Homo sapiens: one gene and its partner. The protein of the gene in region 1 purifies or fractionates together with the protein of each later gene. This does not show direct contact. Each region holds a gene or a part of one and is shown in the gene's direction. Other genes may lie near its edges.

Region 1 (7,293 bases):
AATTTTGTATTTTTAGTAGAGATGGGGTTTCACCATGTTGGCCAGGCTGGTCTCGAACTCCTGACCTCAGGTGATCCACCCACCTTGGCCTCCGAAAGTGCTGAGATTACAGGCGTGAGCTACCGTGCCCGGCCACAGGTAGCCCTTTTTATCGGTGCAGCTGCTGGCATCCCCTGCTGCAAGCTTCCAGCTTCCTTATTTGTGTTTGCAGCCCAATCTTCCAGGCTGTTCTTTGTTAGAAAATAAGTGATTTCTTGGGCTGCTTTTTGTTAGAAGGGAAGTTCTACCGAGGATTTTTTGTTTCCAAAAAAAAAAAAAATAGGCAACGTAGAGTAGCTACTCACCTGCATAATAAGAGATTGGGTTGGGGGCTGCCAGAGATTTGCGCCCTATGCGGATGGCACATCTGGTCCTCACCGGTTTTTCACGGTCTATTTAGATCAGATACAGCCTCCCTGCTAGCTTGTCTGTAAAAATCCTTGCCTTTTTTTTTTTTCTGAGGCGGAGTCTCACTCTTGTCCCCAGGCTGGAGTACAATAGAGCGATCTTGGCTTACTGCAACCTCTGCCTCTCGGGTTCAAGAGATTCTCCTGCCTCAGCCTCCCAAGTAGCTGGGATTACAGGCACATGCCACCAGGTCTGGCAAAATTTTCTTGTATTTTTGTAGAGATGAGGTATTACTACATTGGCTAGGCTGGTCTCGAACTTCTGACCTGAAGTGATCTGCCCACCTCGGCCCCCCAAAGTGCTGGGATTACAGGCATGAGCCACCGCGCCCAGCCATGTGCCCATTTTTTTTTTTTTTTTGAGATGGAGTCTCGCTCTGTCGCCCAGGCTGGAGTGCAGTGGCGCGATCTCGGCCCACTGCAAGCTCCGCCTCCCGGGTTTACGCCATTCTCCTGCCTCAGCCTCCCGAGTAGCTGGGATTACAGGAGTGTGCCACCACGCCCGGCTAATTTTTTGTATTTTTTAGTAGAGACGGGGTTTCACCATGTTAGCCAGGATGGTCTCGATCTCCTGACCTCGTGATCCACCTGCTTTGGCCTCCCAAAGTGCTGGGATTACAGGCTTGAGCCACCCCGCCTGGCCGTGCCCATTCTTAAGCCAGTCATATTGGCTGAGGAGGGGCTGGGCTGATTGGCCAGGTTCTCTCCTAGAGATGGTGTGGGCTGTACCACACCTAAGGCAGTGGCCCAAGTCTGAGAATGGAGGGAGAGGACCCTCCCCCTTAGGGACCTGCTGTTGGTCAGCAGCCAGTGATCTTGGGTGCACTGCATTTCCTCTCTGGGCCTCAGTGCCTTCATCTCCAAGCTCAGCTCAGAGCATGGCGGTGGTGTCTGCTGATCATATTGGTTTAGTCATCAGCTATTTAGTCAGTACCTTCTCAGGGGCACAGCTGGGGGCACAGGGGATGCCTCTCAGTGACGTTTGAGCTGAGACTGAAGAGTTCAGGCAAATGCATCTGGGGGAAGACTGCTTCAGGCAAAAGGCTAGCATGTGCAAAGTCCCTGAGGAGGCAGAGTGTTCAGCGGAGATGGAGGGAGAGGAGGCAGCAGGGGCGGCAGGGCCAGATCCAGTTGGCCACAGGAAGAAATGTGGGTTTCATCCTGTGTGTGAGCGGGAAGCCCCGAGCACATTTGCAGCTGTTATGATCCATCTGGTGGGTAATCCCTGGCATGCAACTGTTTTATTCCCACTCTGGGGCCGGGATGCCTGGGTTCAAATCAAATTCTGCCACTTCCCAGCTCTGTGATCTCGTTCCAGTTCCTTACCATCTGTGAGCCTCGGTTTCTCCATCTGTAAAGTGGCGGGGGGGGAGTCATTCCGAAGCCCAACTGGAGATGAGAACTCTTAAAGGCACCGTGGGGCACCTGGTGGATGACCCCAGGAAGCTCTTGCGGGGCTTGAGAATGTGTGGCAGGGAGGGAAGATGTCCTGCAGGGGGAGCCCATGAGCAGGTGGCTCCGTGGGCACCTGGGGCTCAGTCCAGACGCAGCGCAGCCTAGTGGGTGCACCTGGGAGTGGTCTGCCCAGGGGTGACGCTCCGGCCAGCCCAGGCTCAGCCAGGGGGCTCTGGGTGACAGTGTAGGCTCCAGGCTGAGGGTTGCCCTGCGGGGTGCCAGCTCTCCTGCTAGTCCTGCCCTGTGTGCCTGCTGAGGCTCAGACAGGGATGTGGTATCTCCAGGAAGCTGCTTGGCAGAATCGAGGGACCACGAAGGGGTGCGGGTAGGGGGAGGAGGAAAGACACTGCATCTGCTTGGATAGAAGTTGCATCCGGCCAGGCACAAGTGGCTCACACCTGGAATCTCACACTTTGGGAGGCTGAGGCAGGAGGATTGCTTGAGGCCAGGAGTTCAAGACCAGCCTGGGCAACAGAGCGAGATCCCCCATCTCTACAAAAAAATCTGTAGTCCCAGCTACTCGGGAGGCTAAGGCTGGAAGATCACTTGAACCCAGGAGTTAGAGGCTGCAGTGAGCTGTGATCATGCCACTGCACTCCAGCCTGGGCGGCACAGGGAGACCCCCAACCAAAAAACAACAAAAAAAGCTGCATCCTAGACCCTTTGCAAGAGACTGAACGAGTCCTAGGAGTCAATGTGGTCCCTAATGGAGTGTGGACGATTCTGCAGCCATCATCATCCTTAGGCTGTTCCGCTCATAGGATTAGCTCCCTGGGTGGGGCGGTCTCGGGGTCTCTCCTCTGATCCGGGCTCCCCACCGCCTGCCGGTCCCATCACCCACTTCCTCACCCCGTCCCCCAGGTGGTTCAGTACATCGGGGAGATCTGCCGCTACCTGCTGAAGCAGCCGGTGCGCGAGGCGGAGAGGCGACACCGCGTGCGCCTGGCGGTGGGGAACGGGCTGCGTCCTGCCATCTGGGAGGAGTTCACGGAGCGCTTCGGCGTACGCCAAATCGGGGAGTTCTACGGCGCCACCGAGTGCAACTGCAGCATTGCCAACATGGACGGCAAGGTGCACACCGGCAGGGCCCCGGGGCAGGTCTCGGAGTTCAGGGAAGACCACTGTCTCCTCTTCCTGGGGCCCCTGGGATACATAAAACAGCCTGGACTGGCGCGGAAGGCTCCGCCAAGGCGCACGCAGGGCGGGGTGTAAGGGGAGTTCCTGGGACTCCCGGTGCACCACCAGAGGGACAATCCTGCAGCCTGCACAGATAGTCATGTGACTGTGGTCCTTGGGTCAGGAGAGTTGGAGGATAGGTATGGCTGTGCGCCCTGGCAAGTGCCTCAGCCTTTCTGAGCCTCAGTTTCTGCGTGTGGAGATTAGCAAGGAGAATAGGGCTCTGTGTACCGTGCTGTTATTTTGTTGTTGTTGTTTGAGACAGAGTCTCGCTCTGTCGCCCAGGCTGGAGTGCAGCCACGTGATCATAGCTCACTGTAGCTTTCAGTTCCTGAGCTCAAGCAATCCTCCTGCCTCAGCCTCCCAAGTAGCAGCAAACAGATACCTTCATAATTAGCAACTACTTACTCTCTTAATCATCTCCATTCTCCGCTTGCATGAATCTCCCTCTCCTTTCCCAAGCCCCTCCCATCCAAGGCCAAGAACAGACCGTAATAATGATCATAAAGCAAATGTCGGCTGGGCACAGTGGCTCACACCTGTAATCCTAACACTTTGGGAGGCTGAGGCAGGAGGATCACTTGAGCCCAGGAGTTTGAGACCAGCATAGCCAATGTAGTGAGACCCCCTTTTCTACAGAAAATAAAAAATTAGCCAGGCATGGTGGCAGGTGCCTGTAGTCAATGCTACTAAGGAGGCTGAGGCGGGAGGATCACGTGAGCTCACGAGATCGAGGCTGCAGTGAGCTATGATTACACCACTGGACTCCAGCCTGGGCAACAGAGTGAGACTCTGTGTCTCTAAAAAGGAAAAAAAAAAACAGCAAGTGCCATGGGGGCTGGGTCCTTAATGCCAAGAACAATGCTCCTTCCTCAGTGTGCTTGGTGTTGGATGGCCAGCCCCCAGGGCACTTTTGCTCACTGTAGCTCAGATTCTTGCATAGGAAACACACCAGGCCAGGCACGGTGGCTCACGCCTGTAGGGTCCAGCCCCACAGGGTCGGTGGGTTTTTCTCCCTGTGTGCGGAGACGAGAGATTGTAGAAATAAAGACACAAGACAAAGAGATGAAAGAAAAGACAGCTGGGCCCGGGGGACCACTACCACCAAGAGGCGGAGACCGGTAGAGGCCCCGAATGTCTGGCTGCACTGTTATTTACTGGATACAAAGCAAAAGGGGCAGGGTAAAGAGTGTGAGTCATCTCCAATGATAGGTAAGGTCACGTGGGTCATGCGTCCACTGGACAGGGGGCCCTTCCCTGCCTGGCAGCCGAGGCAGAGGCAGAGAGAGGGAGAGAGAGAGAAAGACAGCTTATGCCATTATTTCTGCATATCAGAGACTTTTAGTACTTTCACTAATTTTGCTACTGTTATCTAGAAGGCAGAGCCAGGTGTACAGGATGGAACATGAAGGCGGACTAGGAGCATGACCACTGAAGCACAGCATCACAGGGAGACGGTTAGGCCTCCGGATAACTGTGGGCAAGCCTGACTGATGTCAGGCCCTCCACAAGAGGTGGAGGAGTAGAGTCTTCTCTAAACTCCCCGGGGGAAAGGGAGACTCCCTTTCCCGGTCCACTAAGTAGCAGGTGTTTTTCCTTGACACTAAGGCTACCGCTAGACTAGACTTCCCAGACGCTGGCGTCACCGCTAGACCAAGGAACCCTCTGGTGGCCCTGTCCGGGCATAACAGAAGGCTCGCACTCTTGTCTTCTGGTCACTACTCACTGTGTCCCCTCAGCTCCTATCTCTCTATGGCCCGGTTTTTTCTAGGTTATGATTACAGAGCGAGGATTATTATAATACTGGAATAAAGAGTAATTGCTACAAACTGATGACTAATGATATTCATATATAATCATGTCTATGATCTAGATCTAGTATAACTCTTGTTGTTTTATATATTTTATTATACTGGAATGGCTCGTGCCCTCGGTCTCTTGCCTCGGCACCTGGGTAGCTTGCCACCCACACACGCCTGTAATCCCAGCACTTTGGGAGGCTGAGGTGGGTGGATCACTTGAGGTCACGAGTTCGAGACCAGTCTGGCCAACATGGCAAAACCCCATCTCTACTAAAAATACAAAAAAAAAAAAAATTGTTTGGGCTCAGTGGCATGCGCCTGTAATCCCAGACTCAGGAGGCTGAGGCATAAGAACCACTTGAACGTGGGAGGCAGAGGTTACAGTGAGCGAAGATTGCGCCACTGCATTCCAGCCTAGGCGACAGAGTAAGACTCTATAAAAAAAGGAAGGAAGGAAGGAAGGGAGGAACGGAGGAAGGGGGAAAAGCAGAAAGAAACACACCAGACAGGGTGTAGTGGCTCAAACATGTTGGAGAAGCATTTCTGTTCATAGAACCATGCCAAGCAGGGCGGCGGGCAGCAGGTGAAGCTCTGCAGTGTCTGACGTAGCTGTAGTGTCCACACAGAGGCATCTACTTCCTGCCAGCATGGAGGGTTTTGTGGATCAGGAAGTGGGTGCCAGCCAGAGGTCTTCTCTTGACTGAATGCAGGCTGGGAAGGTGGGAGGAGGGGCCCTGAGTTGGAGGCGACGCTTACTACCCTGCTTTTGCAGATCAGCCAAGGTCACAGAGCTTAGAATGACACTGGAGGTGCTAGGTCCAAGCCCCAGGGCAAGGCAGGCAAAGTGTTACTGAGAAGGACCCCGCATATCCCCGGCTCCTTCCAACTCAGTTCACCCCATTCCAGGTCGGCTCCTGTGGTTTCAACAGCCGCATCCTGCCCCACGTGTACCCCATCCGGCTGGTGAAGGTCAATGAGGACACAATGGAGCTGCTGCGGGATGCCCAGGGCCTCTGCATCCCCTGCCAGGCCGGTGAGCAGGGCCCCCGCATGGTCCCCACCCGGAGCAGGGGTCCCCACGCCCTGCCTGCCTAGCGCAGCCTGAACATGGCCTTCTCCCTAGGGGAGCCTGGCCTCCTTGTGGGTCAGATCAACCAACAGGACCCGCTGCGCCGCTTCGATGGCTATGTCAGCGAGAGCGCCACCAGCAAGAAGATCGCCCACAGCGTCTTCAGCAAGGGCGACAGCGCCTACCTCTCAGGTGCGCAGCCTGCTAGGCCCCGGTGACTGGCTGTGCGGATGGGGATCCTCCACCCATCTGCCCCTCTCCCCTCTGCCAGGTGACGTGCTAGTGATGGATGAGCTGGGCTACATGTACTTCCGGGACCGTAGCGGGGACACCTTCCGCTGGCGAGGGGAGAACGTCTCCACCACCGAGGTGGAGGGCGTGCTGAGCCGCCTGCTGGGCCAGACAGACGTGGCCGTCTATGGGGTGGCTGTTCCAGGCAAGCTGGGGTTGCAGGGGGTGGTCCTGAGGCATGGTCCTGAGGGAGCTCAGCCAAAAGGGGCTTAGAAGTACACATGCCTTTGGGCAGTGCACAACCTGGACAACTGCTCATGGCAGCCCAGGAGGAAGCACTGGATCTGGAGCCAGTTCACCTGGGTGATGTTGAGCCTCAGTTTTGTCATCCAGAAAATGGGATCATGAAAGCCCACCTGTCTTAGGGCTTCAATGAGCCAAGCAGGAGCTCCACAAAATGTGTGGCTGCTTCCATAAATGTCATCCCAGGTTGGGAGAGACTGGAGATTACAGACCAGGGGCTACTGCTTGACAGTGTATCTGGTCCTGCTGGTGGGGAGGATGAGAGGCGGGGTGTCCTCAGCTGAGCCTCTGCCTCCAGGAGTGGAGGGTAAGGCAGGGATGGCGGCCGTCGCAGACCCCCACAGCCTGCTGGACCCCAACGCGATATACCAGGAGCTGCAGAAGGTGCTGGCACCCTATGCCCGGCCCATCTTCCTGCGCCTCCTGCCCCAGGTGGACACCACAGGTGCGAGTCTCCCCCACTCCAATCTCTCTCTTCATCCATCAGTGTGTCTGTTGATTCATGTCTTGGTCCATTTTGTGTTGCTCTAAAAGAATACCTGGCCGGGGCCAGGCACGGTGGCTCACGCCTGTAATCCCAGCACTTTGGGAGGCCGAGGCGGGCGGATCACGAGGTGAGGAGATCGAGAGCATCCCGGCTAACACAGTGAAACCCTGTCTCTACTAAAAATACAAAAAATTAGCCGGGCACGGTTGCGGGTGCCTGTAGTCCCAGCTACTTGGGAGGCTGAGGCAGGAGAATGGCATGAACCTGGGAGGCGGAGTTTGCAGTGAGCCCAGATCACGCCACTGCACTCCAGCCTGGGCGATA
Region 2 (2,813 bases), on another chromosome or scaffold:
GCACCAGAAGTCCCACTTCCAGAATTCTAGGGAGTGGAGTGGAAAGGAAAAGTGGTGGGATGGGCAGAGAGACCGGAAGGCTGAGCACTGGAAACATAAGAAGGAAGAATCTGGCCGGGAAAGGAAGAAGAACTGGGGAGGTCAGGAGGACAGGGAGCCAGCAGGAAGGTGGAAGGAGGGCAGGCCAAGGGTGGAGGAGTCGGGGAGCAAGAAGGAGGGCAAGCGACAGGGCCCGAAGGAACCCCCAAGGAAAAGTGGTAGCTTCCACTCCTCTGGAGAAAAGCAGAAGCAACCTCGGTGGAGGGAAGGGACTAAGGACAGCCATGACCCCCTGCCATCCTGGGCAGAGCTGTTGAGGCCCAAGTACCGGGCACCCCAGGGCTGCTCAGGTGTGGACGAGTGTGCCCGGCAGGAGGGCCTGACTTTCTTTGGCACAGAGCTAGCCCCAGTGCGGCAACAGGAGCTGGCCTCTCTGCTAAGAACATACTTGGCACGGCTGCCCTGGGCTGGGCAGCTGACCAAGGAGCTACCCCTCTCACCTGCTTTCTTTGGTGAGGATGGCATCTTCCGTCATGACCGCCTCCGCTTCCGGGATTTTGTGGATGCCCTGGAGGACAGCTTGGAGGAGGTGGCTGTGCAACAGACAGGTGATGATGATGAAGTAGATGACTTTGAGGACTTCATCTTCAGCCACTTCTTTGGAGACAAAGCACTGAAGAAGAGGTGGGCAGCTGTGGGGGAGTTGGGTCGGGTGGGACAGAGGCAGTCGGGAGGATGTGAAGAGCAAGGATCATTAGTTTGAGTATCCTTACTTTTGGTCCCCAGCTGGCTTCCCTTAGAGAAGGCATTCAGGTCCGCTTCCTTTCTTCCCTTGAGGGTAGGAAGCTGCCTGTGCCCACCCCAGAGTGGTCCTGAGCAGTCCCCTTTTGGGCAGGGGGATTCTTTCTCCTGAGTTGCCCTGCCCTACCTCTACCTGCATGGCCCAGGGGACGAGGGAGATCCCCATCTTCCTGTCTCCCCGACTGGAGCCTTTATCCTGGGAGACCAGGTTTTTCCCACATATGCTTGGTGGTGCCTGCTCAAGTCAGCTTCATTGGGAGGAGCAGGGTCCTCTCTCCTTGGGGAACCCGTTTTCATTGCATGGTATTGTCCCCTAAAGGCCTCTTCCTCCCCACAGGTCAGGGAAGAAGGACAAGCACTCACAGAGCCCAAGAGCTGCGGGGCCCAGGGAGGGGCACAGCCATAGCCACCACCACCACCACCGGGGCTGACACCCTGCCCCACAGGGAATGGCCTTGGCCTGGCCCAGCCCAAGATCCCAGCGTTATCTAACTCCTGGAGGGTGGACTCTGTCCTGGCTTGTTTGGTGTCCTCAGATATCTTTCACACAGTAGAGCAAAATCACCAGCCCTGCACTGATGTCACTTTATGTAGAAAAAGGCCTTAGCTGGACCTGCGTTGCCGTCTATGCAAATGCATGCAAATACTCCAGGCCCTGGGATGTGGGCTTGTGTTTTGTCACTGTGAAGGGGGAGATGGGAGAGGAGCCTGTTTTGGGGTGGGGTCTGGGGAAGGCAATCTGATTCTGAAGCTAAAGAGCTTTCATCCTCTTGAGTGTATGTCCCCATAGTGGGCCCCTTGACCCACATGCTGACCGGTGCCTTGGGATTTGACTAGAGTTGCTGGCTCGAGGCCCAGCACGAGGACTTACCCTGGGGTTTTGTTAGGTTTGGAAGCAGCTGTCCCTAGGGGGTGAAGTCCCCCCCCTTTTTTTTTTTACCCCTGCTTCTCCCACGGCTTCACCTCCCTATGTGAACTGTAGACTCAGATCCCAATAAAGTGCTGTTGCAGCTATGATGCTAGGTGGTTTCTAAGCACAGGGGACACCCCACACCCCCTGCCTGAATGGATGGGTCCATCCCAGGCACTGGTACTTGCCCCCTTGTTCTGTATCCCCCTTTGCCCTTGCCTTGCCCTTCCAACAAACCCTAGGCCCTTGAGAAGCTGATACTTCTCCTTTTGCTCACAGCTGCCTTGGCCCCACCCCTGGGAGATGTAGCAAATTGAGTGTGGGTTTTGGAGTCTGAGCCTCAGGCTCAAATCCAGGCCAAGTGATCTTGGGCAAGTTAATCTCTGGGAACTTTGGGTTTCTTATCCTCAAAAAAGGCGATGGAAGGGCTGGGGAAGTGATTAAATAAAAGCAACGCAAGAAAAATGCCTCTCCTGTTTTGGGCACTCAAAAGTTATTGCCTTCTTTAGGGAAGGGTGTGGAGGAGGGAAAAGAACCCAGGCCCAGAAGGAAGAGCTTCTGGGGCTGGGGAGGTGAGGGAACCACTAGGTGGCACCCTGGCTCCATTTTGCTCCAGACCTCGCCTCTCCCACTACTCACTGTCCCCAAAATCTCAGACCCTACCCCACTGACCCCAGCGCCTGCTCCACTGGCCAGCTCTCCCAGGATGACCAGACTCCCCTTGGCTATTCTCTAGGAAGTCCTTCCTGAGATCTAACCTTAGTCCCTTCGGCAATACACTGGGCTTTTTGATGACCCTGGAAATGCCCAGGAAGTACAGGAGACAGAATAATGTGGTGTGACTGCTCAGGCAGGAGGCGGGGGACTACAGGTTCTAGAAGGGGCTGTAACTGATTTCTGTATTATTTAGCAAGCGAATATGTAACTCTGTTTAAGGGCTTAAAGGTATTAGTTCATTGAATTCATGTGTGGGTGGGGCAGGGGTTAGGGCAGGCTGGGGATGGAACAAGGACCACTAATTCAGCAAACATTTATAAAGTCTACTGTGTACCAGAAACAGAGA

What was found.
Region 2: the proteins of SLC27A1 (region 1) and PBXIP1 purify together in Homo sapiens (co-immunoprecipitation; 3 studies listed by BioGRID and IntAct, with this or other methods). This does not show direct contact.

Annotation. Positions count from the first base shown.
Region 1 is NC_000019.10:17,494,493-17,501,785, forward strand, and holds part of SLC27A1 (long-chain fatty acid transport protein 1), read left to right. Parts: intron 1-2,762; coding exon 2,763-2,972; intron 2,973-5,785; coding exon 5,786-5,912; intron 5,913-6,002; coding exon 6,003-6,140; intron 6,141-6,219; coding exon 6,220-6,384; intron 6,385-6,780; coding exon 6,781-6,927; intron 6,928-7,293. UniProt on the Homo sapiens protein: Mediates the import of long-chain fatty acids (LCFA) into the cell by facilitating their transport at the plasma membrane.
Region 2 is NC_000001.11:154,943,482-154,946,294, reverse strand, and holds the end of PBXIP1 (pre-B-cell leukemia transcription factor-interacting protein 1), read left to right. Parts: coding exon 1-723; intron 724-1,177; coding exon 1,178-1,271; 3' UTR 1,272-2,215; downstream 2,216-2,813. UniProt on the Homo sapiens protein: Regulator of pre-B-cell leukemia transcription factors (BPXs) function. Inhibits the binding of PBX1-HOX complex to DNA and blocks the transcriptional activity of E2A-PBX1.